Regions from separate parts of the Homo sapiens genome. Here regions 1, 2, 3, 4, 6 and 7 are each linked to region 5. The links come from fine-mapping of genetic effects on gene expression. A gene starts in region 5. Each other region holds a variant in brackets. All regions are shown on one strand. Distances are between the middles of the regions. Region 1 overlaps PHC3 (polyhomeotic homolog 3). Region 2 holds the start of PRKCI (protein kinase C iota). Region 3 has its middle 10 kb from the start of SKIL. Region 4 overlaps PHC3 (polyhomeotic homolog 3). Region 5 holds the start of GPR160 (G protein-coupled receptor 160). Region 6 has its middle 18 kb from the start of LRRC31. Region 7 overlaps SEC62 (SEC62 preprotein translocation factor).

The links. PIP is the estimated chance that this variant, and not a neighbour inherited with it, causes the effect.
Region 1: its variant is fine-mapped to the expression of GPR160 in whole blood (INTERVAL, PIP 0.97).
Region 2: its variant is fine-mapped to the expression of GPR160 in whole blood (TOPMed, PIP above 0.99).
Region 3: its variant is fine-mapped to the expression of GPR160 in whole blood (INTERVAL, PIP above 0.99).
Region 4: its variant is fine-mapped to the expression of GPR160 in whole blood (INTERVAL, PIP 0.97).
Region 6: its variant is fine-mapped to the expression of GPR160 in whole blood (INTERVAL, PIP above 0.99).
Region 7: its variant is fine-mapped to the expression of GPR160 in monocytes (BLUEPRINT, PIP 0.95).

The regions. Positions count from the first base shown.
Region 1 is chr3:170,156,566-170,160,565 of GRCh38, forward strand. The region is part of intron 4 of PHC3 (polyhomeotic homolog 3); the gene reads right to left. Among named protein-coding and RNA genes, the nearest start is that of PHC3, 23 kb to the right of the region's middle. The variant G/GA (reference allele first, on the strand shown) is at 2,362.
Region 2 is chr3:170,219,545-170,224,016 of GRCh38, forward strand. It overlaps PRKCI (protein kinase C iota), which reads left to right and starts at 2,880. Exons shown (of 18, transcript NM_002740.6): 1 at 2,880-3,226. The coding sequence starts at 3,126. RefSeq lists enhancers at 2,411-2,470, 2,541-2,600, 2,611-2,770 and a silencer at 2,951-3,240. The variant T/C (reference allele first, on the strand shown) is at 2,098.
Region 3 is chr3:170,345,515-170,349,986 of GRCh38, forward strand. No RefSeq gene overlaps it. Among named protein-coding and RNA genes, the nearest start is that of SKIL, 10 kb to the right of the region's middle. The variant C/G (reference allele first, on the strand shown) is at 2,404.
Region 4 is chr3:170,122,542-170,126,541 of GRCh38, forward strand. PHC3 (polyhomeotic homolog 3) reads right to left here. Exons shown (of 15, transcript NM_024947.4): 9 at 50-203. Among named protein-coding and RNA genes, the nearest start is that of PHC3, 57 kb to the right of the region's middle. The variant A/G (reference allele first, on the strand shown) is at 2,297.
Region 5 is chr3:170,036,124-170,040,595 of GRCh38, forward strand. GPR160 (G protein-coupled receptor 160) reads left to right here and starts at 1,872. Exons shown (of 4, transcript NM_014373.3): 1 at 1,872-2,092; 2 at 2,792-2,920. RefSeq lists silencers at 1,847-2,326, 2,637-2,686, 2,847-2,896 and an enhancer at 2,752-3,251.
Region 6 is chr3:169,885,649-169,890,120 of GRCh38, forward strand. No RefSeq gene overlaps it. Among named protein-coding and RNA genes, the nearest start is that of LRRC31, 18 kb to the left of the region's middle. The variant G/A (reference allele first, on the strand shown) is at 2,595.
Region 7 is chr3:169,970,678-169,975,149 of GRCh38, forward strand. All of the region lies in intron 1 of SEC62 (SEC62 preprotein translocation factor), which reads left to right. Among named protein-coding and RNA genes, the nearest start is that of SEC62, 6.1 kb to the left of the region's middle. The variant C/CTT (reference allele first, on the strand shown) is at 1,903.

The DNA of each region.
Region 1 (4,000 bases), 120 kb after region 5:
AGCTATCCATGAAGAATTTTCTTTTTAAGAGACTACATGGTTTTTTTTTTGAGATGGAGTCTCACTCTGTCACCCAGGCTGGAGTGCAGTGGCGCCATCTTGGCTCACTGCAAACTCCGCCTCCTGGGTTCAAGTGATTCTCCTGCCTCAGCCTCCTGAGTAGCTGGGATTACAGGGCTTGCTACCATGCCTGGCTAATTTTTGCATTTTTAATAGTAACGGGGTTTCACCATGTTGGTCAGGCTGGTCTTGAACTCCTGACCTCGTGATCCACGCACCTCGGCCTCCCAAAATGCTGGGATTACAGGTGTGAGCCACCGTACCCTGCTGAGACTACGTGTTTTTTAATAAATCAAAGAAATAAAATACCTATCCTATTTATTTTAGAAAAACATTACTTCTACTTTCTGCAATACAAGCTGGTGAAAATAAAACAAACATAAAAAACCTCACAGTCTCCCAATGTTTTCAGATTTTGGCATCCTAGAAAGAAAACTTGCAATGTCAGAACAATTATCATATTGGAAATAATTTAAAATGTCCAGCAACAGCGATGGTTATATAAAATAAAATCCATTCACACAGTGCAACCCCACACAGCAGCTTAAGTGAGATTGATCTCTGTCTGCAAACATAAAAAGATCTCAAGACACACTGTTAAGGGAAAAAAACAAAATGCAGAATACCTGTGTTTACAATGTGTAAAAAAGAGTGCTAAATGCATATATGCACACTTCTCTATGACATATATGTCCATAATACATAGGATAAGATGTGGAGGGGTATGGAACCAACTAAGAAGACAGACGGACTGAAAGGGAAAAGAGGCTTTAGGGAACTTAATACCTTTTTTACTTTTTCTGTACTGTTGGAATATTTTACAAAAATGCAGTAAAGCTGCTTGTGACCATACAAATATTCAGGCTACAGTTTTATCTCACACTAGTATTAGGTTTTGGAAAAGGCTTCTACACCCAATCACTTAAAATTATATTTTAAAGAATCCTTAAAAACAATGAGTTCTGAAGCCTAAAAAAATTCCCTGAATGAGATAATAGAGGATGAGGACACTAGCAGTAGAACACTGAGAATGACTGATTATAAGCAAATGATTTTCTCTCAGGTAAATTTACATCCCCTATATAGTATAAATATATCAAATGGACTCTGATATGTGGCTGATGTGATTTGGACATTTTTGAGAAAACTGAACAGTTTTAAGGTTCTTGATCTAAAAACAATCTCACTGACCCACTGAATATACTCTCAGGAAATTTTTAAGAAGAAAATAATAACTAAAAATATATACAAATATATATAATAAAATAGTCAATGCAGGTTTACTTATATTAGCAAAAAGACAGAAAAATTAAAACCACCAGCAAGAGAAAAGTAGTTTTTAAAAATGGTAGAACATTATATACTCATTAAAAATCATATTTACAACCAATAAATAAAGAAGACAATAAAGAAACAAACCATTTGCTTATCCCTCCTACTAAACCCCACTGAAATAGCAATTAATACAGTAAAAAAGGATTGAGAAAACAATCACACAAATCTAGACTATTGGAAATTCCATAAGGTAAGCTGACCTGAGCTCTTCAAACGTCATGAAAGAAAAAAAATGAAGTCTATTTTTATATTAAAAAGAAAAAAGAGTCTTCAATGCAGTATGTGATCCTTAATTAAATATTCAATGTGATCCTTAATTAAATACTCAATGCGGGCCAGGCATGGTGAGCCAAGATTGTGCCACTGCACTCCAGCCTGGGTGACAGAGACTCCATCTCAACAAAAAATCGAGGCAGGCGAATCACGAGGTCAGAAGTTCGAAACCAGCCTGCCAACATGGTGAAACCCCATCTCCACTAAAAATACAAAAAATTAGCTGGACATAGTGGCAGGCACCTGTAATCCCAGCTACTTGGGAGGCTGAGGCAGGAGAAATCGCTTGAACCTGGCTGGCAGAGGTTGCAGTGAGCCAAGACCACACCACTGCACTCAAGCCTAGGCCACAGAGTGAGACTCCATCTCAAAAAAGAAAAATTTCAAAAAAAGAAAAAAAAAAACCTGATAGGCCAGGCACAGTGGCTCACACCTGTAACCCCAGCACTCTGGGAGGCCAAAGCAGGTGGATCACTTGAGCTCAGGAGTTCGAGACCAGCCTGGGCAACATGGCAAGACTTTGACACTACAGAAAATACAAAAATTAGTCAGGTGTGGTGGCACACGACTATAATCTCAGCTACTTGAAGGGCTGAGCAGGGAGGATCACTTGAGCCTGGGAGGTGGCAGTTGCAATAAGCCATATTAGCACCACTGCACTCCAGCATGGACAACAAAGTGAGAACCTGTCTT[G/GA]AAAAAAAAAAAAAAAGTGAAAATAAAAGTAAAATAAAATCTGGGCCGGGCGTGGTGGCTCACACCTGTAATCCCAGCACTTTGGGAGGCCAAGGCGGGCAGATCACAAGGTCAGGAGATCGAGACCATCCTGGCTAACATGGTGAAACCGCGTATCCACTAAAAATACAAAAAATTAGCAGGGCGTGGTGGCAGGCGCCTGCAGTCCCAGCTATTCAGGAGGCTGAGGCAGGAGAACGGGCGTGAACCTGGGAGGCGGAGCTTGCAGTGAGCCGAGATCACGCCACTGCACTCCAGCCTGGAAGACAGAGCGAGACTCGGTCTCAAAAAAAAAAAAAAAAAAAAAAATCTGATAAATAGCATAACAGAGATCCAAAGTATTTTATCCATAATAGAAAAACGGAATATTAGTTTGAAAGAACAATGAGAAAACAAGAAAATGCTCTGAGAAATTATAAATAGTGGCTGAACTAAAAATTTTTTAAAAGTCAAAGAAAGGGCTAAAAGAAAAAGTTAAGGAAATATCCCACACACAAAAAAAGGCAGTAAGTGAAAAGGTAAACAAGATAAAGGATCAATCCAGAAAGGTCAACATTCAACCAAGAGCTCCAGAAAGAGAAAACAGAAAATTAATTTCTCGTGGATTTGTTCAGTTTCACATATATGATCATTAAAGAACAAAATTAACTTCTTGCAGATTTGTTTAGTTTCACATACATGATCATTAAAAACCTAGTTTCACACTAAGAGGGCCCAACAGGTGTCCTACACAATGACATCTAGACACATTGCCATGAAACTACAAAATAAAAAACTAAAGCAAACAGGCATATCTCAAAGATTCTGGAAAGAAAAAACAGGCAGTTACCCCAGAAGAATGATAATGGAACTAACAACAGCCTTTTCTTCAGCAATACTAAAATTTTGAAAAAAGTAATCTTTGCTTTCAAATTTCCTCAGAAAAAATATTTTCAATACAGAATTCATGTAAAGATAATTATAAAAAGAGGTAATTTTCAAGCCCACAAAGATTTAGTTTTTCTTCCACATAGCCTTTAAAAGAAAGTTATAAGATACTCCAGCAAAACAAAATTCTTATCATACTGTCCTTTGACTATTTACTTGTCTGTATCCTCATTATACTCTAAAACCTTTGTTCACTTTCAATCCTTGGCACCTGACACCAAGTAGGCACTCAATAAAAAAGTACTGGCATAGACTGTCCTCAGGAATGTGGAAGACTAACATAGAATCCCACATAGTAATGAATCCCTAAATCTAACCTCTGCTGTCTCAGGATCATGATCTCACGGTGAGACCTCTTGTCTGCAAACTCTACCTGTTTTAAAAGTTTAGCGTTCCTCAGCTACTATAATACAATCCTCAAAGATCTCTCTTCTGTTAACTCCTATGACATTTACCACTTGATTAGTACTATTATATTATTTACTGTTTGATATATCTAAGCATAGTTCTTCAAATGCATACTCCCTGAGGGAAGAAACTTTGACTTACATGTACCACCAGAGCAAGCAGCACAATGTTGGACAATACACATATTTGCTATAATGGGCAACCAAAGAATCTCATCACTGGGGTCAGGATTAGAAACTCTACTATAACTCAATCTCAGGCAATT
Region 2 (4,472 bases), 180 kb after region 5:
TGAAAAGATAATGCACAGAGTGGGAGAAAATATTTGCAAATAATCTAATAAGAGATGTATTTCCAGAATATATAAAGAGCTCTGGCCAGGCATGGTGGCTCACACCTATAATCTTAGCACTTTGGGAAGTCAAGGTGGGAAGATCACTTGAGCCCAGGAGTTGAAGATCAGCCTTGACATTATAGGAAGACCTAGTCTCTACAAAAACGAGAAAAACAAATTAGCTGGGTGTGGTGGCATATGCCTATGGGCCTAGCTACTCAGTAGGCTGAAGTGGAAGGATCGCTTGAGCCCAGGAGTTGGAGAGCTGTGATCATGCCATGCACTCCAGTCTGTGCAACAGAGCAAGATCTTGTCTTGAAGAAAAAAAAAAGAAAAGAGAGAACTCTTACAACTCAATGAAAAAAGACAACCCAATTTAAAAATGATTAAAGGATCTGAATAGATAGTTCTCCAAGAAGATATATAAATGGCCAATAAAAACACGAAAACATACCCAACATCATTAGTCATTAGGGAGATGTACATCAAAACTGTAATGAGATACCACTTCACAACCACTAGGATGGTTATGATAAAGAAGATGGGAAAAAAACCAAGTATTGGCAAGGACATTAAAAAAAACTGAAACCTTCACTGGGTATGGTGGCTTACACCTGTAATCTCAGCACTTTGGGAGGCTGAGGCAGGCAGATGGCTTCAGTCCAGGAGATTGAGACCAGCCTGGACAACATGGCAAAACCCCGGCGCTACAAAAAACACAAAATTTAGCAGGGTGTGGTGGCACATGCCTGTAGTCCCAGCTACTAGCGATGTTCAGAATAGAAAAACTCATAGCAACAGAAAATATATTATTGGTTGCCAGAGGTTGAGGAGAGTGGGGAGTAACTGCTAATGGATATGCAGTTACTTTCAGGGTGCTGAAAATACTCTGGATTTAGGTAGAGGTGATGGTTGCAAAACTTTGTGAAGATACTTAAAACTATCAAATTTTACACTTTAAATGAGTAAGTTGTATGGCATGTGAATTATCTTTTTTTAAAAAAATGAGACGGGATCTCACTGTGCATTGTGTTGCCCAGGGACGGAGTCTCGCTGGAGTGCAGTGGTGCAGTCTCAGAGGCTCACAGCAACCTCTGCCTCCTGGGTTTAAGCGATTCTCGTGCCTCAGCCTCCGGAGTAGCTGGGATTACAGGTGCCCGTATATTTTATAATATATTCCATAATTAATCGCTCCGTATTAAACTTGCTGATGCAGGTCTCCAATTACTGAAAAACCTGATACCAAGTTTTTCAATGGGATTTTTTTGTTTGTTTAAGAGATGGGGTCTCACCATGTTGCTCAGGCTGGCCTTGAACTCCTGGGCTCAAGTGATCCTCCAGCCTCAGCCTCTCAAAGGCTGGGACTACAGGCATGTAGCACTTTGCCTGACTCAAGGGGAATTTTTAGTAAGAGTATATAATCCAAGTCTGTAGCAGTTGGAGGATGTCGTACCACGCTGAAGTGTCACACATAACTGATGACTCAGTCCCCCAAGCCTATTTTATCATCGTAAAGAAAGCTATTTCTTTGATTATTCCAACTCTTTCAGCACCAGGACTGCTGCAGGGGCTGGATTCATGCTACCTGTAGTTGCAGTGTAAATTATGTGTCAGAGCCAAGATCCTAGGAAAGTCAAAGACTAGGTTACAAGAGCGATTCTTTTTTTTTTTTTTTTTTTTTTTTTTTGAGACAGAGTCTTGCTCTGTCGCCCAGGCTGGAGTGCAGTGGCACAGTCTTGGCTCACTGCAACCTCCGCCTCCCTGGTTCACGCCATTCTCCTGCCTTAGCCTCCCGAGTAGCTGGGACTACAGGCGCCCGCCACCACGCCCGGCTAATTTTTTGTGTTTTTAGTAGAGACGGGGTTTCACCGTGTTAGCCAGGATGGTCTCGATCTCCTGACCTTGTGATCCGCCCGCCTCGGCCTCCCAAAGTGCTGGGATTACAGGCTTGAGCCACCGCGCCCGGCCAAGGACGATTCTTTCTAATCTTTGGTAAGCCAGTTTTTACAGAATGAAATGCTCTTGGATTGACTGACTTGATTGGGTAAGTATTCA[T/C]TGGGCTCTTGTTCCATGCAAGGGCAGTCTACAAGGGCCTAGATATGGGGGCCCCCAAAGAAGAAAAATCGGTTTTTCATCATATTTTCTGGTTGAGTTTCTTCCTTTATTATATTTGTTACATATGTTATTAAATTATTTCCATAAAAGAGGTTATGCTGAGCAGGTAACCAAATTCTTGTTCCCCCAAAAGACATGTATAATTCAGACGATTTATGCAATTAGAAGAAGGGAGACTTCATCAGTTAATAAAGTCTAGAACGTGAGGAAGCCCAGTCATTTCCAGGACCTTCAGATGCCCAAGCTGGATCCAGGTTTTCCACCCCGACAGCTCCAGGGAGCACGCTGGAGAGACAGACTTCACCAGCGGGAAGGCGCGGCACCCTACGCGCAAGGAACCTCAAGTCCCAGAATCCTATGAGGACTCCAAATCCCAGAAACCTGCACGCAAATCTATCCCGGGTGCCAAGTCGGCCGACCGCAGACGTGACCAAGTTGCGAGGCTAGGGTGAGGTGTCGTAGAATTTGTCCCTACCATTGTCCCTGCAGGGAAGAGACTTTAGTGATCTAGAGCTGGTCATTGTCTCTTTCACAGCTCGCGTGAAAGCACCCCTCTCGGCGTGTTTGATGCCATGATCAGCGTCTCCCATTCCCTCTGTCCCCTTTCTCTGCCCCCGTAAGGATGGTTCAGCCCGGTATTGAGGCTCCTTGAGCTGGCTGGATGGTTGCGCCCGCCCTACCCCGGAATGTGGGCCTTTGGAGCGAGCGAAGTGGGAGGGACCGACGCAGGAGGTGTCTTGGGCCCGGGCGGCTGTAGAGGCGGCGGCGCCTACGGGCAGTGGGAGGAGCCGCGCGGTTCCGGCTGCTCCGGCGAGGCGACCCTTGGGTCGGCGCTGCGGGCGAGGTGGGCAGGTAGGTGGGCGGACGGCCGCGGTTCTCCGGCAAGCGCAGGCGGCGGAGTCCCCCACGGCGCCCGAAGCGCCCCCCCGCACCCCCGGCCTCCAGCGTTGAGGCGGGGGAGTGAGGAGATGCCGACCCAGAGGGACAGCAGCACCATGTCCCACACGGTCGCAGGCGGCGGCAGCGGGGACCATTCCCACCAGGTCCGGGTGAAAGCCTACTACCGCGGGTGAGTGTCCTGGGACAGGGCGGTGGGCGGGAGGGGACAGGCCGGCTCCACTCGGCCTGGAGGAGGGGAGGGTGAGGGGCTGGAGGTGTTGTGGGCGGATTGGGCTGGGCGGGCGGGCGGCTCCGGTGACTCAGGGTGAGTGACGAAGTGATAGGGGTGGGGGCGAAGCAAGGGGATGCAGTACTGGGGGCGCCCCCAGGTATGGCGGTGCGGGGAGCCGAGGGGCCAGAGTAGGGTCCGAGAAGGAAGCTAGGGTTAGAGTAGGTGCACCTGGTGTGGACGAGAGACTCGCCTCCTGAGAGCTTTGTAGGGGCCTTGCATCCTTAAGTCTGGGTGTATTTGGGGTTGCGAGTTGAGGATTCCAAGTGATGCCTTAGTTAACTCAGTTTGCTGTGGGGATAGAAAACGGGACTTCTTCAGTTAGCTGTCCGTTTTGATTACCAGCAGGCCTAACGCCTCTGGTTCTCTGAGATATACCTCCATCCCCGTTGTGTTCACGTAGTGTATCTGCACTGCCAGTATATTAGACATAGGGGTTGTATTTAAGAATCAAGTCGATGCGTTTTCAGGGACGTGCAGTGGGTACTTACGTGTCGTCAAGATTAAGTTGCATGTGTGTAAATCAAAATTTTGTGAGCCTTTCTTTCTCAGTGTTGTTTCAACGACTACCCGATAGGGTGAGATACTGCAAGGTGAGGAGACTAGCCTAGTTACAGTTTTAAATTCTCTGATCTTCACTCCCTTACTATGGTTACAAGAAAAAACCCAGTTCTAAGTTCATTGTGTTAAATCATTTTCTATCAGTGACGCAAAGTGCCCCCCTTCCTTTAAATTCAGTTGTGGTTTGAATTTTTTTTTGAGATAATTATGTTTAGGAGCATTAGAAACGTGAAATGTTAGTGTGACCATAAAGGTTGGAGACTGAGAAGTCACAGAAAACCCAGCTACTTTGGCTTGCCTTACTGCTTGTCCAGGTAGAAGTAAATTGCTTTAAAAAACTCAAGCAGTGCTAGGTTGAAATTTTAATGCATACTTTTACATTCCTGAGAGGATCAGTGAAGATAGCAAACTCTCAAACTACCTCTCTTGTTTTGATTTCAAAGAAAATCTGAGCCCCTAAATGTTGTATTGATTTGATGTAAGGACTTTTTTTTTTATTATTATACTTTAAGTTTTAGGGTACATGTGCACAATGTGCAGGTTAGTTACATGTGTATACATGTGCCATACTGGTGTGCTGCACCCA
Region 3 (4,472 bases), 310 kb after region 5:
TTTGAACAATAGATGGAGCAGAGATTATGATTGGTATCATTTTCTGAAGCAAGAAGCCAAACCTGGAGAGGCAACATAAGAAGATCTTCCAGTTTAGGTAGAGATCTCAGCTGAATATCTAAGCAGGTGTGATGCTGCTGGTGAGGTCACAGAGGCCTGCAGGAGACTGGACTCTTACTTCCTATTTATTATGGCCCACCATGATCTCTGCAATACGTATGTATTTAGTGAATGGCCTCAGAAGTCTGCATCAGTGTGGATGATTGTTTACAACTAAATAATTTTGCAACATTTATTAGCATGTTGTTCTCCACTTTCGTAAAATGCAGTATTTATTTTATTAATATGTATTTTAGAATGTGTAAAATATTTAAATATTGAATACTGAAGGCCTGGCCTTTGTCCATTCAGGAGAAGCTGACTAAAGCACATTTAAAAAATATTATAGACCGGGCGTGGTGGCTCACACCTGTAATCCCAGCACTTTGGGAGGCTGAGGCGGGCAGATCATCTGAGGTCTGGAGTTCAAGACCAGCCTGATCAACATGGAGAAACCCCATCTCTACTAAAAACACAAAATTAGTTGGGCGTAGTGGCGCATGCCTGTAATCCCAGCTACTCGGGAGGCTGAGGCAAGAGAATCGCTTGAACCCAGGAGGCGGAGGTTGCGGTGAGCCGAGATGGCGCCATTGCATCCAGCCTGGGCAACAAGAGTGAAATTCCTCAAAAATAAATAAATAAAAAATAATAATCATTAAATAAAGGTATTATATAGAGCTTTATTTGAGAAACTGGTTTATCTAAAAATTGACAAAGTGGTTGATGGAACTTCAGGGTAGTAATTTCACATTTACATTAACCTTTAATGAGACCATGTGGTTTCTTTAAAATCTATATTACCTGTGCAAAAGAAACCTATTCATTAGAAATCCAGTCTCTGATTTTGGCAACAGAGCCAATATTTATTTCCCACAGAGGCCAATTCTAGTAAGCTTTAAATCCAGGATAGTTAACTTCGTGAGAATAGTATCAACACTTATTTCCCCTGCTGTCAATTGAAAGAATATGTTGACCACCTACCGTAACTAATTTAACTGGGAAGTGGTTGAAACATTAATGAATAAAACAACAGTGTTGTTAACATTTTTTTCTGGAAAATAACTTTAATACATTAGGCATATTTGCAAATAATCATTTTACTGCCTGAGGTTTTAATATATAACTTAATATATAACTCATTTATAAGGGAAAATGCATAAATTCCACTTGGCTAACTAACTCCGTCTTTTCCTGTTAAATTATAAAAAGAGAAAGTCTAATTGGCCTAATTAATCAGTATTAACCCTCTGGGCTGGGCTTTTTGGGTCAGGCTAAGTCTAGGTTTTTGGTTAGACTATGGTTCTGGTCCCTGCTCCTGACTCATTCAGCAACCATCCTTTGCTCAGAGAATACCCTAAGGCCAGAGTAAGTGAGTGAGATGGTTTCTGTTAGAAGAGGATGGAGGAGTTGCATGCATCATGATTGAAATAATTCAATTAGAAAGTTTCTAATTTTTTGTTATGGTAAATGCCGTTGATGCACATATTTGTTATACATCTTTTAGCATTTTTTCCACTCTCTTTGTTAGGATACATTTCTTGGAATAATTGTTGAGTCAAAGGATTTGAAATTTTTTTTTTTTTTTGAGACGGAGTCTCACTGTGTCACCCAGGCTGGAGTGCAGTGGCATGATCTCGGCTCACTGCAACCTCCACCTCCCGGATTCACCGATTCTCCTGCCTCAGCCTCCCCAGTAGCTGGGACTACAGGCATCCGCCACCATGCCCGGCTAATTTTTTGTATTTTTAGTAGAGACCGGGTTTCACCATGTTTCGATCTCCTGACCTCGTGATCTGCTCGCCTCGGCCTCCCAAAGTGCTGGGATTACAGGCGTGAGCCACGGCGCCCGGCCTGACATTTTTTTCTTTTTCTTCTTTTCTTTTCTTTTTTTTTTTTTTTTTGAGATAGGGTCTTGCTCTGTCACCCAGGCTGGAGTGCAGTGGTGCCATCTTGGACCATTGCAACCTCTGTCTCCCAGGCTCAGGCAATCCTCCCACCTCAGCCTCTGAGTAGCTGGGACCACAGGTGTGCAGCACTATGCTAGGCTATTTTTTTGTATTTTTAGTAGAGACGGGGTCTTGCCATGTTGCCCAGAGAGAGAGAGAGAGAGAGAGAGAAACAGAGAGAGAATTCCAGAGTGCTCCTTTTACTTAATTATGCCAATTTTGCTAAAGAGCATTTAAAAAACTACTTTCAAGGTGGTGGAGCAGCGGGCCTATCTTGGACAGTCGGGCCTGTTCCTTCTCTTAGGAAAGTCTGCATTACACTTTTGTCCTGCCTGCCTGAGTGGCCAATCTGAGTGAC[C/G]CTGCTGCCACCATTGTCCCTTGGTCACCCTTTGGGTAGGGGAACTGTTCCCTCTACTTTTTCTGTATACTTCCCTTCACTTGGTATAGAGCATCTTAAACTTGAGAGGACAGAGAAGCACTTGGGAGCTTGCTTAATAGAGATTAAAGGAAGAAAGCCGGGCACAGTGGCTCAGGCCTGTAATCCCAGCACTTTGGGAGGCGGAGGTGGGCGGGTCACCCTGAAGTCAGGAGTTCAAGACCAGCTTGGCCAACATGGCGAAACCCCGTCTCTACTAAAAATACAAAAATTAGCCAGCCATGGTGGTGCGCGTCTACAATTCCAACTACTTGGGAGGCTGAGGCAGAAGAATTGCTAGTACCTAGGAGGTGGAGGTTGCAGTGAGCCAAGATCGAGCCATTGCATTACAGCCTGTGTGATGGAGTGAAACTGTCTCAAAAAAAAAAAAAGGGTTAAAGGAGGAAGATTCCTGCATTCTGATCCCTAATATTCTAATTTGGTAGTTCTAGGGCCCAAGAACCCATATTTTTAACAGGCTCCTTAGATGATTCTGGTGCAGGCACTTGGCAAATCCCACTTTCAGAAAAATTGCTCTGGTGCTTTGATGGGTACTTTTTGGGTAGTAAGAAGTCAACATGAGGCTGGGCACGGTGGCTTACACCTGTAATCCTAGCACTTTGGGAGGCTGAGGTGGGCAGATCACTAGGTCAGGAGATTGAGGCCATCCTGGCTAACATGGTGAAACCCCGTCTCTACTAAATATACAAAAAATTAGCCGGGCGTGATGGCATGTGCCTGTAGTCCCAGCTACTTGGGAGGCTGAGGTGGGAGAATCTCTTGAATCTGAGAGTTGGAGGTTGCAGTAAGCCAAGATCGCGCCACTGCACTCCAGCCTGAACGATAGAGCAAGACTCTGTCTCAAAAAAAAAAAAAAAAAAAAAAAAAAAAGGAGAAGTCAAGATGAAAAGTTTCCTATTTAAAAACACTGGTTGTGCTACTCTTCATTTCAGTAAGTCAGTTCTGGGTCTCATCAAACAACTTTCTTATGGGGATATTCAATTCTGAAGTGCCCAGTAGTACTTCCTAGGTAAGAATGCTGCTGGCCCTCTCATTTTCCTGCTATCATCCTTTAGATTAACCCATCTGTCTCATAGTCTTCCGTATCTAACCCCTCTGGTTCTCTGTTCTTATTAGGCCATGGCAGAATCCATTAAGGATCTCCACAGTTTCTCCTGATCCTACTTAGAAAATAATATTTTGAAGATATGTTCCTGGAACAGGTCAGGGAGTTGGTAGGGAGGTCATCTTGCTGTCTGCCAGAGACCTGGCCAGACCAAGGTTATCTGGGTTAATTAGAACCTGGCTCTTTGCCTTGAAGGTTCAGATACCCGATTTTGTCAACAAACAAGATTGATCTGGTCTGTGATGAGCAGACTCATCTTAACTAAACGTACAGCATTGGAAGCACACAACCAACATGCCATACATGGGTTTACAGTTAGAAAAGGAACTGGAGCATTTACACTGGCACAGAACTCCAGGTGCAAATGGTTTGAGTGCCCCATTATAATCACAAGCTTATTTCATGGGTAAAAAATCAGCTGGGTGCAGTGGCTCACACCTGTAATGCCAGTACTTTGGGAGGCTGAGGTGGGTGGATCACCTGACATCAGGAATTTGAGACCAGCCTGACCAACATGGAGAAAAACCATCTCTACTAAAAAAATACAAAATTAGCCAGGCGTGGTGGTGCATCCCTGTAATCCCAGCTACTCGGGAGGCTGAGGCAGGAGAATTGCTTGAACCCAGGAGGTGGAGGTTGCGGGGAGCCGAGACTGTGCCCTTGCGCTCCAGCCTGGGCAACAAGAGCGAAACTCCATCTCAAAAAAAAAAAAAAAAATTCAGAATAAGGGAAGGTAAACACCTGATTTACTTTCTGAATACATTGAGGCTGATTCTTTAATCTCCACAACTGAGATAATTTTGTAACCCTGCTGACGAATTATGCCTTTTGAAGGATACATTTATTTTGATTTGTTAATGCATCCAGTCAAATTTTACTCTGAACA
Region 4 (4,000 bases), 86 kb after region 5:
TAACATTTATCAAATAGAAAAATTCCCACAAATTTTGGTATTTTCTCACCTAACAAAGGATGTTCAGAAGTCAAATCTTCTCCTCTCCCCACTGTTATAGCTGCTGGAGACAAAGTGGGTGGTGGTGGGGTTCTATCCATCCGGACACATTCATCTGACTCTTCTGGCATTTCTTCTTCACACACATCTTCTACCTGATAAACCTGCAATGACAAACCATACTGCCTTAAAATGTTTCCAAAACTATATTTTATCAGGTGTTCTTAATTTCAGAAAATTAAATTCTATGTGTATTAAATTTAAAAACAAGGCAAAAATGACTACTCTAACAGACTGAAAGGAAAACTTAAAAATTGCTCGAATGAAGTTTTTCATATTTCTTCATAATATTTGACTGAAAGCAAGCTGTGGATCAGTATCTAGACCAAAAATCACCAAGGTTTCCAAAAAGATGGTAGTCAAGTCTGAAAATATTTTTTATTTCGATAATTAAAAAATACAAATAAAATAACGATTTTGGGAATTCAACTGTTTTTGTTAACTTCTAACTGTCATGAATCAAAACAGATACTAACATTTTTCATAAGCACACTAAGCGAATTCCTACAATGACACACTATATTAGGACATGTAGGATTCTATCCCAGGCTCTTCCTTATTATTATGTAATTTAAAGATTAAATTATAAAAAGTAACATCTGAGAATCTACAAAAAAAGATACGCAATTATATCTCTCCTTTTCTGTTCTACTCAACAATCTAATGACTCTTTATATATAATATGCAAACAGAAAATATCTTTCCTTGAAATGCATACACACACACACACACACAGCCTAAGCTCTTTGACACCTTATTTTTTTACTCTTTTTATAATGTTCCATACTTATGGGAGAAAGTTTTTAAGTCTATAACTTAACCACCTTGTTATCCAATTGTAAAGATTATACTTAAGAAGGAAAATGGGGCCAGGTGCAGTGGCTCGTGCCTGCAATCCAGCACTCTGGGAGGCTGAGGTGGGTGGATCACCGGAGGTCAGGAGTTCCACAACAGCCTGGCCAACATGGTGAAACCCTACCTCTACTTAAAAAAATACAAAAAATTAGCCAGGCATGGTGGCGGGCGCCTGTAGTTCCAGCTACTTGGGAGGCTGAATCAAGAACATCACTTGAACCTGGGAGGCAGAGGTTGCAGTGAGCCAAGATCAGGCCATTGCACTCCAGCCTGGGTAACAGAGTGAGACTCCATCTCAAAAAAAAGAAAAAGGAAAATGGAATCGAAGGCACCCTGAGAAGGAGCTATGTAACTAGAAATACTTTTTTTTTTGACAGAGTCTCGCTCTGTTGCCAGGCTGGAGTGCAGTGGTGCGATCTCAGCTCACTGCAATCTCTGCCTCCTGGGTTCAAGCGATTCTCCTGGCTCAGCCACCCCGAGTAGCTGGGACTACAGGCGCGTGCCACCATGCCCAGCTAATTTTTTGTACTTTTTAGTAGAGACAGGGTTTCACCAGGTTGGCCATGATGGTCTTGATCTCTTGACCTCGTGATCCACCTGCCTTGGCCTCCCAAAGTGCTGGGATTACAGGCGTGAGCCACCGCACCCGGCCAATACCTTATTATTAATGTTTCCATTTCAAAGAACACTTCTAGAGGTTGACATGGGTATTTTAATTTAATTTGTTATCATTTATTATTTACTTAACCATTATTTATGAAAAATGATTACTAAAAATAAAGCCATAAGAGTTCATTTCCCTTCTTTTATCTATAAAGCTTATTACTTAAGTTTACAAAAATTATGAGTTTTTAAAATCTTATTTAACCATACTGACTAATCTTCCCATTAAAAAAGTGTTTTTTGAGAAAGGGTCTCACTCTGCTGCCCAGGCTGGAGTGCAGTGGCTCCATTATGGCTCACTCAGCCTTGACCTCCAAGCTCAGCCTCCTGAGTAGCTGGGACCACAGGTGTTCACTAACACACCCAGCTCATTTTAAAATGTTTTTTGTAGAGATGAGGTCTCACTATGTTGCCCAGGCTGGTCTCAAACTCCTGGGCTCAAGTGATCCTCCTGCCTTGGCCTCTCAAAGTGCTGGGATTATAGGCATGAGCCACTGCACACCTAGCCCCACAAATGTTAACAAACAAACTTTCAACATTCACAAGAAACCTTTCAGCAACATCTAATATTGTGTACATTTTTAATCAAACTATTTTAAAAGTCTGATGTTTTAAAGTATATAAAATTATACATAAAAGTGATCAGGATTTCTGAAACCAGCAAAACCCATGTGTTGTA[A/G]AAGGGACAATCAAGTTTCACCTATAAGGATATAACAGTAAGTTATAAAGGTAACAATAGGTGACAATCAAAAATAAAATAAAATAAAATAAAAATCTTTCCAAGGCTCCACTAAGAATAAAACATCTTCTTTTGTCTTTTGTACAACTTTAAAATTCTACTGTTACTGGATAATTTTATATCAAACATAATATTATACCAAATATAAAATTCAGAACTGTGATCTGAATCAGCTACAAAGTAGGCAACATTTTTTAAAGTTATTTGCTCACAACCCTGCACCTGGAAACCAGTTACACTAAGAGAGATTCTGTGCCTCATGCCTGAATCTCAGACGTGAAAGCAGTCATTTGTTATTGTTCGGAGCAACAATTATACTAGATCGGTTCATGATAATAACAGTTTTTTAAATGATGATAATGCCCAATATAGGTAAAATCATTCTAAAAAGTGTCTGGGGGGTTAAGAAAAAAAATCTAGTCCCCAAGGGCAAGTGCTGTCACAGTGAATACTTTAATTTGCCTTAGTGTCAGAGATGTTAATTCAGAGATAATTAAACAAGTATGGTTTTATCGACCAGTTCAATTTTATCTATGTAGCATTCCTTCAGTATAATAGATAGTACTTTTCTTCCAAAGAACATGATCTTTGCTTAAAATGCTGAAACTCTCTTTAATCCTAATGCAGTTACATGTTATTCAAACATCTGCTAGAGTATCTTTTAAGAAATCAAAGCTTGATCATACATAGAATTCTGATTTTTAAAAACAAGAGTTTAAAGAATGAAAAGAGCCATAACACAAATAGCATATTTTGAAATAATCCATCAAATACTGTAAAATACTTTCCACTCATTATACTTAAAGCTAACTATATGTACTTCCAGAACTCTCATATAAAGGCGAAATAAGTGCATGAATAAAAGAAGTAGGCAAAAACAAATCTGTCACAGACATCTGGCACAATCAGCATTAACAAATCTAAATGTTCAACAATTAAAATGTTGAAAAAAGCAAAGTGGAGGTTTTGCTCACTCACAAGATCATTAGGAAACTGCACATCACAATTACTGTTTAGCTCATAACTATAACTATTCTAAAAATAACAAAGACTGCCAAACTTACCTCAATAAAGTCCAATATTCCCATCTGTTTCCCTTTCCTAAATAAACTGAGGAATATTTGTTTATTAGTTCTAAATTATCTACCCTCAACATACTTATATCCAAATGTCAACAAAAAACTTTAATTCTTAAGTATCTTAAAAAACATACTGATTTTACTTTGAAAATTCACCCTTATCTTTCAAATTTCCACATCTCTTAAAAAATACATCTTTCTACCTTTAAGTGTTTGAAACAACCAGAAAAATATAACCTGTGAAGAAATGTGTTTGAATGGAAAAAATAACACATTTGGTCAAAGGTAATAAAAAAACAAGCTTAATAAATTATTAAAGAGCTATGTTACTCAAAGAAAGGTAAAAGATTAAAAAATATTTAGAAAGGTAACATGGAAACATCCATAGCAAGCATTATAACCATATCAGTGATAGCAGAGAAAGTTATTAATATCATTTTTTAAACTTCCAAAAATGTTTTAAGGTAGAAGTGCAGGAAGCAACAAAATATTTTTGGCTTTAGTTTTCAAAGTATTATGCTCCATATGTATATATATATATATATATATATATTTTTTTTTTTTT
Region 5 (4,472 bases):
AAATTTTAAAAAAGAACACAAACAAGCACACTCATCCACTATAAGTTCTCACCAGAGGACCCTCTGACTGTAAAAGAGCGAAGCCTTCAGCTTGGCTGTCTTCACTAACACCGTCTTGCAGTCACTCATGATAAGAACTCAGAATTTGCCACCGAAAGCTCTGCCACATCAAAGACTCTTCCTTGCAAGACCACCAGGCCCAGACCAGGACTCCCTTTGTCTTCTTCCCTCCCTTTGGACTGGTTCATTAACCCTTTCTCCTCTTCTTCGTCTTGATGTTAAATATTACTTTGTTGTGGAATGTTTAATCTACAACATTCGTATAGTGATTAAGTATACTAGTATGTATGGTTTGCAATATTTACTGACTTATGGAGTGGCTTGAACCTATGTGCTCTGACTACAGAGTGAATGGGAAGGACTAAGGAGAATTGCCTCCTTGGGAACTCCATGTAGCTCCTGGATTTTGTGATTGAAATAGCATTTAAAAAAAAAAAAAGACTGACATTGTGGAGAGATACAAACGTGTATGGACATGGTCATCTTTAATCTCTAACTGCTATGACACTCAGAGAGGTTGAGAGGCTCAGGACACTCCCCTTGTTCAAGGCTCTGCGTGAAGAGGAGAAGGAAGAAATTGTGCAATATTTTATTTTATTTTATTTGTTTCAGATGAAGTCTGTCTCTGTTGCCCAGGCTGGAGTGTAATGGCGTGATCTTGGTTCACTGCAACCTCTGCCTCCTGGGTTCAAGTCATTCTCCTGCCTCAGCCTCCCAAGTAGCTGGGACTACAGGCATGTGCCATTACGCCCAACTAATTTTTGTATTTTTAGTAGAGGCAGGGTTTCACCATGTTGGCCAGGCTGGTCTTGAACTCGTGACCTCAAGTGATCCACCCGCCTCGGCCTCCCAAAGTGCTGGGATTACAGGCTTGAGCCACTGCGCTGGCCTAATTGTTCGATATTTTAAATGTTTAAATGACCGGCAAGTCGTAGGTGCTCAACAAATATTTGTTGAATGACAACAAATTAGCACTGTTGACACAAAAAAGGCAATGCAATATATGGGCTATTTAATATTTGCAGATTTTTATTTAAAAATCTGAATTCACAGTACACTGCAGGCGGTTGCTTAGAAGCATACAAGTTTCAAGAAGTTCTGTCACCCTGTGTATACTCTTTTTTTTTTTTTTTTTTTTTTTTTTTTTTTTTTTTGATACGGAGTCTTGCTGTTGCTGCCCAGGCTGGAGTGCAGTGGTGCGGTCTTAGCTCACTGCAACCTCCGCCTCCTGGGTTCAAGCGATTCTCGTGCCTCAGCTTCCCAAATAGCTGGGATTACAGGTGCGTGCCACCAAGCCCGGCTAATTTTTGTATTTTTAGTAGACATGGGGACCAACGTGGACCATGTTGGCCAGGCTGGTCTCAAACTCCTGACCTCAAGTGATCCGCCCACCTTGACCTCCCAAAGTGCTAGGATTACAGGCATGAGCCACCGCCTGGCCACCCTGTGTAAACTCTTATCTGGAGACAACTGCCAAGTTTACATTTGCAGAGGTAAGGGAAGGAGAGGCCCTGACCCAGTGGCCCCCGCTCGCCCGCCTGCTGGGGAGATGGGGAGCTCCTAGGACAGGGGCCGGGTCCTCAAGATGTGGCATGAGGAAGGGGGTCTCACTGAGCCCCCAAGCGGCTCCCGCACTGCGCACCCCTGGCTGCGTCCCTCTGCCAGCCTCAACTCAGCCCTCTCCTAGCCGGCGGGGGGTGACAGTCTCTGTGATATCTTTCCGTCCCGCCGGCAGGCGGCGCCCTCCGGCCCTTGTTTCGTTGGGCCCGGACGGGACGTGCGCGCTCAAAGGTTGCCCGTCTCTGACGCCCGCATTTCCTGGTCTGGAGCCGGCTGAGCCACAGCAGGGTCGCCGCGGGGTCCCGGGGCCGTGCTCCCCTGCCCCTCCCGGGAGCGCGCGGGGCGGGGCGGGGCGGGGCGGGACCAGGCGGGCGAGCTGGGCCCTCGCCCCTCCCTCGGGCGGTCACCTGGGCACGGGCGCTGCAGGTGTCGGGGCCTCAACCTTGCGGAGCCGACAGCCATCGATCCTCGGGTGAGTGCGGGCGCAGGTGGAGGGCGCCCGGCGCTCTCGCCACCGGCGTCCCAGCCTCGGGGCGGCGAACGGTCCCCGCGCCGCTCCCAGCCTCCCTGGCCGGGCGTTCAGCGCGCCTGGGAGGGGAAGGAATTTCCTTTGCAGGAACTCAGGGGCTGGGGGTTCTCTGCTACTTAAGAGATCCAGGAGTGGAGCCCGGACGCCCGAGCCTTCCTGCTTCGGGATGGGGATTACCGCGGAGCCTTAGCAACTGGGGTCTGTCGTGGGTTTGAGGGCAGGGGGTCTGGGGAATGGGCGTGTCCCGCACCCAGAGACTCGCCACCCTCTCTCCAGGGGAGATGCTTTTTAAACATGACAAACCCAGCAAGGTTATAGAAATGGGTGTATGCAACTCTTCGCTCTTTCCTGGCGCCCAGAGGTGAATAGTCTCACACACACGCGCGCGCGCGCGCGTGCGTGCATTCATTGGGGCCGACTTTGCCTCCCCTCCCCTGGCCTCGAGCGTTGGGGACGGCGCCCCCGCCCGCGCCCGCCACTGGGATTAAGCCCCAGGGCCTTGCCCGGCTATTTGTTTTCCGAGGCCGTTGCGTCCGGGTAGGTTCCTGGATGACCATCCTGGCTGGCTCAAAATTCCCTCTAGATTACCTGCGACCACCCCCAGGAACCCGGAGACTGAAACTCCTTTTCTCACCTGCGCAGGTGGCCTCGAGGTGGTGGCAGGGCCGCCCCCTGCAGTCCGGAGACGAACGCACGGACCGGGCCTCCGGAGGCAGGTTCGGCTGGAAGGAACCGCTCTCGCTTCGTCCTACACTTGCGCAAATGTCTCCGGTAAGGGGAAGTGTCGCTTAAATCCCAGAGATAACCCCCACCGAGAAGCATCACAAAAGACATGAACGAGTGTTTAGCTCTCAGGATTGTTATTGCTTCGAGTGAAATGGTTTCTTGTGTGCTTTTGTGCATTTATATATAAATATAAACATATATGTATACATTTGACAAGCTCTAAGACCGGCACTTGTGATATCTCCAGAATAGAGTTATTATAGTTATTTGGAAATTGTCAGTGAGGATCAGCTTGGTTGCTATGCGAATTGCAGGGAGGAGGACCTGTGTGCAGTTTCAAAACGATTTAAGAGAAATTCGGTGGCAATACAAGGTGTGGACGTTGGTTGGATCCTGATTTGATGAATGTTTTTTAAAATGGAGATGATGCCCGAGTGCGGTGGCTCACACCTGTAATCCCAGCACTTTGGGAGGCCGAGGTGGGTGGATCACCTGAGGTCAGGGGTTCGAGACCAGCCTGGCCAACATGGTGAAACCCTTCTCTACTAAAAATACAAAAATTAGCTGGGTGTGGTGACACGCGCCTGTAATCCCGGCTACTCGGGAAGGCTGAGGTAGGAGAATCGCTTGAACCCGGGAGGCGGAGGTTGCAGTAAGCCGAGATGGCGCCACTGCACTCCAGCCTGGGAGGCAGAGCGAGACTCCGTCTCAAAATAAATAAATAAATAAGGAGACGATGAAGGACATTTCTACTGATTATTTGATGGTATCAAGGAAATTATAATAGTTCTGTTTAGTTACTTTTGGTAACGGTATCCTGATTAAGGTTTTTAAAATCCCTGTAGAGACACAGACTGAAGTTGAAATACAGCTTTGGGATTTGCTTCAGAATTATTCAGTTTTAGATGCTAGCAGAGAAGGGAGGGGAACAAGATGAGAGGAGATTGTTCATGGATTGTTAATAGTTGAAGCTGGGAAGAACACATGGACACAGGCAGGGGAACTTCAGGCACGGGGGCCTGTCGGAGGGTGGGGGGAAAGGGGAGGGAGAGCACTAGGACAAATACCTAATGCATGCAGGGCTTAAAACCTAGATGACGGGTTGATAGGTGCAGCAAAACACCATGGCACATGTATACCTATTAACAAACCTGCACATTCAGCACCTGTATCCCAGAACTTAAAGTAAAACAAAAATAAAAATAGTTGAAGCTGGATGATGGTTATGGAAGTCCTTATGCTATTGTTTCAGTATTTGTGTGTGTTTGGCATTTTCCTTTAAACAGAACACCACCACTTGTGGAGCTTTTTTGCATAAGGTAGGTTTGGCACTGCAGCCGAGTCTAGATGCAAGGTCTTCCGCAGACGCTCGTTCTTTGTAAATTGGGTGTCAAGGCTGCTTCTCCAGACTCGGTCATAAAAAGTTTTTTTCTCCCTACTGGAGGTGCCGATTTATTTTGCTCAGAAGGCAGAGGGTGTTTGCTGAGTGTGACAAAGCTGAGCGGATCAAGTTGATGCAGGTGGAGGCTAGGTCAGCTTTTTTTACACAAAGGGCATTAGCAAGCCTGGGGGTTGATTGCCTCCGGTCGGGCGGATT
Region 6 (4,472 bases), 150 kb before region 5:
GACTTGAACTCCTGGGCTCAAGGGATCCTCCAACCTCAGTCTCCTGAGGAGCTGTGACTACTGGCACATGCCACAGCCCCTGGCTCAAATTTTGTACTTAGTAAAAAGTATTTGGCATCACAAAAACAGGGCTTAGATGCTAGCATAGAAATAACATTGGTAGTTGAGATGATTTCCTATCATTTCAAGAGGCTGTCACCCAAAAGTTGCAAAGTGTCCCTGCCTGGGTCCTTCCAATCAGGGGAGAAACACTACTAATTCACACAGAACGTTGTCAACAAGATGCTCTGCTTCCCAGGCCTATTTGCATTCTTATAGGGTCAACGGTGCTTGATTCAAATAAATGACTACCTGAGGGTAAAATTTCAGATGATGAACCATTTAGAATTTTCTACTTTCTCTTAAAGATTATCCACTAAGTTTCCTCCAGCTCTTAACTTTCTGTAATACAATTGCAAATTCAAATGATGAAAGTTTGCATGTTTAAACTTAGAAATTGTCAGAAGAGAAATTTTGGTTTTATTCAAATTTGCTTTTTAAACATTTACAAAAGAGAAGCAGGGAATTGTCATCACCAGTTCGAAAGCGAAATGCCTTCTGATTTTTTATTGTTTTCAAGAACAAAAGACTTTTTTGTTGGAAACATCAGAGTTGATTTTTATGTTTGCATACATTAGAGAGATAATGACAGGTTTCTTGCAAAAACCACCATTACGTCTCATACCAGCCTCTCTGATGTTTCATAATTTTCTAAACATATTTCAGAGTTATTGGCAAGCACAAAACTTTGCAATTTAGGTGGATATCAGAACAACTTGACAATTTTCCTCATGTTTTAAAGTGAAAGTCATAGAAACACAACAGAGGAAATCTGCCACTTGTAATGGAGCAAAATCTTTACTTGAGTCTTTGAGAGATTGTCTCAACCAGATCACTTAGATCCTTTAGTCCCTAAGTTATAAACATGCTTATCCTTTAGCTTAGTTTATTAGCATAGATGAAAAAGCACTTTCAGAAATTTGCCTTATTAATTCTTCTAAATTAAAGCTGACTCCCTTCTTTAAAAAGCTGCACTTTTCTAACTTCAGGTGTTTCCTTCTCAGAGAGAAGATGTATATGATTCTATTTCCCCACCTATGAGGCCAGCCTGTGTGCCTCGTCTCCTGAACAATCATTACCCGACTTGGGCCTGCTCACCAGATTGTTGGATGTTGAAAGGACCTGGTCTGGGGCCAGGACACTTTAGGAATCTCTGCTGTGCTCATGCCAAACTCTTGGCAGGAAACCAGGCTGGGCGCTCCAGGACCCAGTGCTAGAGGCCAAAAGACCGGTCTCTTCTATGATGCCTGGCTCCTCACCAGGCAAAGTTGCGGGGGCTGGGGGGTGGGGGTCTCTTCCATTGCTGAGATTCTGCCCCCACTCTCTTGTGTTGGTTGAGAGAGCTGTATCCAGTGACCGCCTACGTGGCTACCATTTCTAAAACATTGTTTATTTCATCATTTAAGATTTCTATTTGGGGGCGTTTTATCACATACATAGCACATTTAATCACAGTTCATGTGCATAAATATATAAAGTTTAAAAATATATAAAGGATATTCATGTATAAAAATATTTTCTGATGAGAGTTCCCAATCAAAAAAGTTTGGATACCACTGTTCTATGAGCAAAAGTTCTGGAAAAGGTTTCTATGTCCTTTTCCCAGAAGCAATTAAAAAGCTTATTTCTGAGACACAAGAACCAACTTGAAACAGCTCCAAGTGGCCAAAGACAGCATAATTTGAGCATTAATACAATGGATTGAAACATATTAAATAAATTTAAAATTGATACATTCATAATAATATTTTTAAAATAAACACATTGGTCATCTTTAAAGGATGTTAATAAACCAATTAATTATTCTGAAAAGAATCAAGCATGAAACCTGACTTTCTAGTGTGAGCTGTACCCTAGGATACCAAATACTTAATGAGGGAAATTTCACTCCCTCTCCCTCACTCCCTCTCCACACACATACATACTCAAAGAATAATAGAATATCATCATCTGGCAAATCTCAAATTAAATAAGATACAGGCTATGACTTTCAGTAGCCACTAACATCACAAGAAGAGAAATAACTGAAGATGACGTGCCTCCTGATGGAAGATCCAACACCACCTATGAGACTGTTCTGCCAAAAACTCAAACCTGAATCAGACCAAGCATCTAAATCTCATAACCAAGTTTTAGGAAATACAGAGGCCTGTGGAACACCATGGAGTACAATAAGCCAAACCAGACTGTGGCAGGCTCAACTGGAAAGATAATCTGTTTATTAAGCAAATGTATTTCAAGACAAAAGAAGCAGGAAAAAAACCTATAGCTTAAAAGAAACTCAAGACATGTAAGCCAAATGCAGCTTGTGGACCTTTTTTGGATTCTCATTCAAACAAACCAAATTTTTAAAAAATTATAAGACAGTCAGGGAAATCTGAACACTGGATAACAGGTAATTATTATTACTATTATTATTTGAGACCAAGTCTCACTCTGTCCCCCAGGCTGAAGTGCAGTGGTGCAGTCTCGGCTCACTGCAACCTCCGCCTCCC[G/A]GGTTCAAGCAACTCTCATGCCTCAGCCTCCCAAGTGGCTGGGATTACAGGCGTATGCCACCACGCCCGGCTAATTTTTGTATTTTTAGTAGAGTATGGGGTTTCACCACGTAGGCCAGGCTAGGTCTCAAACTCCTGACCTCAGGTGATCCACCTACCTCGCCTCCCAAAGCGCTGGGATTACAGATAACAGATAATATTAAACATTGTTAAAGTTTTAGGTCATAATTTTATGGTAATTTTTTGATGTCTTTCTCTTTTAGAAACACTTACTAGAATATTTATGGATGAAAGAATACCATTGCTGTCACTGGCTTCTATATACTCCAGTGTGGGGAAGGTGAAAGGTGTACCTTTTGTAGTCTTAGAAGGTATAGGTGAAACAAGAGTGGGCACAATTTTCTGATTGTTGTAGCTACATAATTTGTACATTCAGGGTTATTGTTCCATTCTGTCTCCTTTGGTATATGTCTGGAATTATTCATAATAAGAGATTTTTCTAAAGGCTTATTATGCCCAACAGCCATCCTCCTTTGTATTCCTAAGGCACACACTAGAGAAAATGTTTCTCAGAATCAAGAATTCCAAATGCTGTAGTGGAATCCAGTAACAAAATTAGTTTGAAGGGACCCATGAATTGCTGCTGCAATCTCGCCTCTGAGAAAAAGCCAAGAAAAAGGGAAAGGCGGCCGTAATGACCTTCATGATTGACTTATGCAGGATTTCCACTGCTGAAAGGGAAATCCTATAGCATTTAGTGCTCTCAATTAAATATTTCATACAGGAGCCATAAGGTGTTGTTGAAAGAAATGAAACCTTGTTGTGTGCCCTGTTTCCTAATATCTGCTAAGGCACATCCTCCTCTGGACCCCACCTTACATCTAGAGGACGGGCCAAGGCAGCAATGCTGGGGATCAGGTTCAATGACTCTTTTCAGTGAAATATATATACAAAAGGAGGTGGCTGAGTTTTTGTTGTTGTTGTTGTTGTTGTTGTTTTTAGGGGTTTTGTTTGTTCGTTTTTTTGAGACGGAGTCTCACTCTGTCGCCCAGGCTGGAGTGCCGTGGCGTGACCTCGGCTCACTGCAACCTCCACCTCCCAGGTTCAAGCAATTCTCCTGCCTCAGCCTCCCGGGTAGCTGAGATTACAGGCATGTGCCACCATGCCCAGCTAATTATTTTTATTTTTAGTAGAGACAGGGTTTCACCATGTTGGCCCGGCTGGTCTCAAACTCCTGACCTCAAGTGATCCACCCACCTCGGCCTCCCAAAGTGCTGGGATTACAGGCGTGAGCCACCGTGCCCAGCTGTGACTGAGTTTTTAAACAAAATTTTATCTTTCTTTATTTTTATTGTATTTATTTTTTTTTTTGAGACAGAGTTTCGCTCTTGTTGCCCAGGCTGGAGTGCATTGGCGCGATCTTGGCTCACTGCAACCTCCGCCTCCCAGGTCCAAGTGATTCTCCCGCCTCAGTCTCCCGAGTAGCTGGGATTACAGGTGCCCACCACCTCGCCTAGCTAAATTTTTTTTGTATTTTTAGTAGAGATGGGATTTCACTATATTGGCCAGGCTGGTCTTGAACTCCTGACCTCAGGAGATCCACCTGCCTTGGCCTCCCAAAGTGCTGGGATTACATGCGTGAGCCACTGCGCCCGGCCCTTGTCCTGTTTTTTTAATCTTAAAAGTTGCTGGGCACATAGTAGTTGTCTTTAAGTGTCCACTGAATGAATATTTGTGCATATAGTATTTCATAGGGTTGGGTGGGGAGGACATCCCAGCTGTTCATCAGAACACAGCCTAGAGAGTGAACACAATTTATTTATTTATTTTTTATTTATTTATTTATTTGTTTATTTTTGAGACAGAGTCTTGTTTTGT
Region 7 (4,472 bases), 65 kb before region 5:
TGCAAAGAAAGGAAAGGCAGTCCAGCCTAAATTTATTGGCTCTTAGCTTCCTCATTGTAAGACAGTTGTGTTCATTCATTGAACTAAGAAGTTCTCTCCATTTGTTTGAAGATTGATAGGTTGGTTTCTCTTTATTAGTGGGTGCTACTATTCCCAAAAGGCCTTCACTTTGTTAGAAGTCTTCTAGGAAAATTATAAAAATATTCTGTTTACATCAAAAGAGAACAAAGAGGGGGAGGTACTGTAGTCCAATGTATAAACAAAAAGAAGGTAAAACTTTTATACCTTCTTATGCTGCATCAGGAGAACAGTGAAAGTGAAGACTGCATGCACGTTGGATGTGGTGGCTTGTGCTTGTAATCCCAACTATCTGTTCATGTTCTCATGGTACTTTTTTTTTTTTTTTTTAAAGAGACAAGGTCTCACTGTGGTGCCCAGGCTGGAATGCAGTGATGGCATCATAGCTCACTAGAGACTCAAACTCCTGGTCTCAAGTGATCCTCTGGCCACAACCTCCCAACTAGCTGGGACTACAAGTGTGTGCACCACCTCACCTAGCTAATTTTTTTTAATTTTTTGTAGAGATGGAGTATCAGAAAGTTACCTAGGCTGGTCTTAAACTCCTGGTCTCATGCGATCCACCTCGGCCTCCCAAAGTGGTGGGGATTACAGGGATGAGCCACTGAGCCCTGCCTCTCATGGTACTCTTCTACAGCAATCTATCTTTCTGGCTTCAACGCCAAAGCAATGGCACAAATTATATTGTTGCATTGAAGGCAGTCTACAATATGGATAAGTTATTATAAGTTAATAAATTGCAATACTTTAAGAAAGTATCAGTAAACAAGTTAATTCTGTGTCTAGTTGGGAGAGATTATCCAAGTCCGTGTTTTCTGGTCTCTTCCTTTCATTGCCTCTTGATAGTGCCTTTACAAAGGACAGGGTGCAGTTTTAGAAGAGTTTGGTGAACTTGAAATTAATTGTTAGAATGAGATTTTTAAATTTTGTGCATACATATCAGGTTCCCTATTGCGTAATATGTAATCAGCTTCTCAATTTTTTATGTACCCTAATATTTAATCAGGTTTTACATGTGATGCCTCTATCAGCAGTCAGTAGATTAGTATATTTATGTCTGTATTCAGGAATGGTATAACTGAGTGTTAGTATGAGTATATTTGTATCATGCCTAAATTTGATATGGTCATTCTCTACAATTACTTTCCTTCCACATTTCCTTTCTGTTGATAAAGTTGGAAATCTGACATCTTTACCTAGCCATTTTATTTATCCTTTATCATTGAGTTCTATGTGTTCTACATTTGAAATGTTTCAGATATCTAAATTTCTTTCCCATTTATAGTCCAGTATCACACTACAATTTACTTGAATATTACAGTAGTCTTCCATCCATTTCCCTGCCTTATGCATTTTTTTCCAGTTCATCCTACACACAGCCACCAAAATCATGTCTAAATCATTTTTCTAGTTATGTCCTATTAAGAAACTACTAGTGGTCTTTCTGCTGCTTACAGGGTAAAGTAGAAATTTCCTTGCCTACCTTGATGACTATTCTGCTTTTACACACTTAATCTCCCAGTACTTCCTAGCTTGTCTCTACTAGAGCCAAATTTTGTGTCATTCTCAGCCACAATATTTATGGCTTTTCAGTCAGTTTACCCAAAACTTGTTCATCTTTCAAACTTTATCTTCCTCTTCCAGTGTTCCCATCCACATTGATAATCTCACTCCTAATTTGGGTGCTTTCACTTTGTTGCCAAGGCTGGAGTGCAGTGGCATGATCTTGGTTCACTGCAGCCTCAACCTACCAGGGCTCAGGTGGTCTTCCTACCTCAGCCTCCTGAGTAGCTGGAACTACACATGTGTAGCACCTTTTTCTAT[C/CTT]TTTTTTTTTTTTTTTTTTTTATGTAGAGAAGGAGTTTCACCATGTTGCCCAGGCTGGTCTCAAGCCTGGTTTCCTGGGCTCAAGCAGTCTGCCTGCCTCAGCCACCCAAAGTACTGGGATTACAGGCATGAGCCACCCAACCCATCCTACTCTGTGTATTTCAAAAATATTTTTTCTGCCCCTCTTTTTGGGAAATAATAATTACTGCTTCTAACAGTTATGTAACAGAGTGTACATATCATGCCTTACAAATCTTTGCTGTTAACTGTAGCATCCAAAGATGATAGGGTGAGTACTCTGTAAGTCTGGAAGAACAGGTCACATTTATTCAGACTTCTCCCCCACAATTTTTAATCAAGCACCTCCCAGTAACAAGTTATTTAATTAGATCGATTTTAAGTTGACAACAGATGTATCAGATGAGGAAAAAATTGAGCATGTGTGGTGTGATTATATAATAGAATTGGTTTCTATAAACCATTTATAGTATTCAACTTTTATAGTATTACTTTTTCAGATGTATGGATATATAGACTATTATTTACTAATTGAGGCTCTGCGAAGTGTAGTGTATTTTACAAACATAATTAAATACTATCATTTAATATGCCTGATACTAACATATATTAATATATTTTAGCATGGTTTCAAAAATTTTAATTAGGAATTTTTGCCTTTTATTATATCAGAAAGTATATTTTGCAGTCAGGCCTCAAATAAATCATTATGAATCTTGTAGTTGTTCCTGAACTTGGAGTGTTAAATTTTGAATTTGCCATTTTTTAAGGTTCCAGTTTTTTGCTGGGCGTGGTGGCTTACGCCTGTAATCCCAAGACTTTGGGAGACTGAGGCATGCAGATTATCTGAGGTCAGGAATTCGAGACCAGCCTGGCTAACATGGTAAAATCCCATCCCTACAAAAAATACAAAAAATTAGCCGGACATGGTGGTGGGCACCTGTAATCCCAGCTACTCGGGAGGCTGAGGCATGAGAATCGCTGGAACTCAGGAGGTGGGGGTTGCAGTGAGATGAGATAGCACCATTGCACTCCAGCCTGGGAGACAGAGCAAGACTGCGTCTCAAAAAAAAAAAAAAAATCTACTTTTTGTGATACGTATTTTCATATATAAAAGTTTTAATTTCATAAATACTTGGTTTTTATAGTAGCCTTCTTTTGGGTTGAGTGATTTGGGCTCTTAATTTTTATTGCCACAAATAGCCCACAGCTGGTAGTTGCAGACTGTAGGAATTGTACACTGGTATGATCTTACACAGGTAATTGGGCTACTGGAAGTAGAGGACTTGCGAAATACAAAGGAAGAAATGAGAGATGTACCTGCCAGGAGACTCAGTAACCAAAACAAAAACTTCCACTTCATCTAACAAATTATTCCTTTTTGGGATAAAGTTAAAGCTGAAACGTAGGTTTGTTGGTTGTTCTTTATTTTCCTCAAACATAACTTAATTCAGACTTCTCTTAACTTTGGAAAAACCCAACATAGATAAGTTGGATAGATTCTTTTTTCTATTTTGCATCATTAGATTTTTTTTGCTTGAAACAGCTGTCTTTAGCATTAATTCTTAGCATCTTAGATTCTTGCCAGATTATTTTTTACTATTATTTGTCATTTTATTCTTTAATGAAGCAGCCCTTCCTGAAATCATTCACATTTAGATTATATGTTGCTGGAAATACTGAATGTTCTGTGTATTGTGCTTAAGCATGCAATTATAGACAGTAATTAAGTACAGTGCATTTGTTTCAATAGCTTACAGCAATAAGACAGCTTTTGAAAGTTTATACATAAGATGTATACAAAGATAGACTGCCTTCATTTTCTTCAGTACGTGAGTAGGGAAAATAAATTCACAGGAGGAATTGTCAAAGAAGTTCAGAATGAAAGGGAATAAAGGGAAGATGGGGAATGAGAAACAATGAAGAAAATAATAGAAAATTTGGGAAAAGATATAGAAGAAAGAAAGCAGAGAAGGATTAAAACGGCCTTTCCAAAACGACTCTTTGTCAGTGCACTTCCATTAATCACCTCTTCAAATGAGATAGTAATAACTCTTTTTGCATTTTTCATTTTTGCCTCACCCTTACTGGAGAAGAGAAGATGAGAAAGACAGTCCCAGGAGTGTCTGGTATCTGCAGCCACAGGGGGAAAGGAAAGAGAATACAAATTGTCATTGTGTCAGTAGTTCTTATGGCTACCACATTGGGGGCAGCTGTCATTGATTAATTTGAGAACTCCTTCTGCGATCTGTTGTCCATTGTTCAGGATACATATCTTTGGCTGTTATTTTAACATTTATTTATGACACTTGTTTCTACTTACTTTGACATTTGGATACTCACTATTAGCAACATCTTATCTTTTTAATTACTGTTTTGTGGCTTATAAAAAGAGACTATAGGCCGGTGACGATGGCTCACGCCTGTAATCCCAGCACTTTGGGAGGCCTAGGCTGGCGGATCACTTGAGGTCAGGAGTTCAAGACCACCCTAGCCAACGTGGCGAAACCCTGTCTCTACTAAAAATACAAAAATTAGCTGGGCATGGTGGC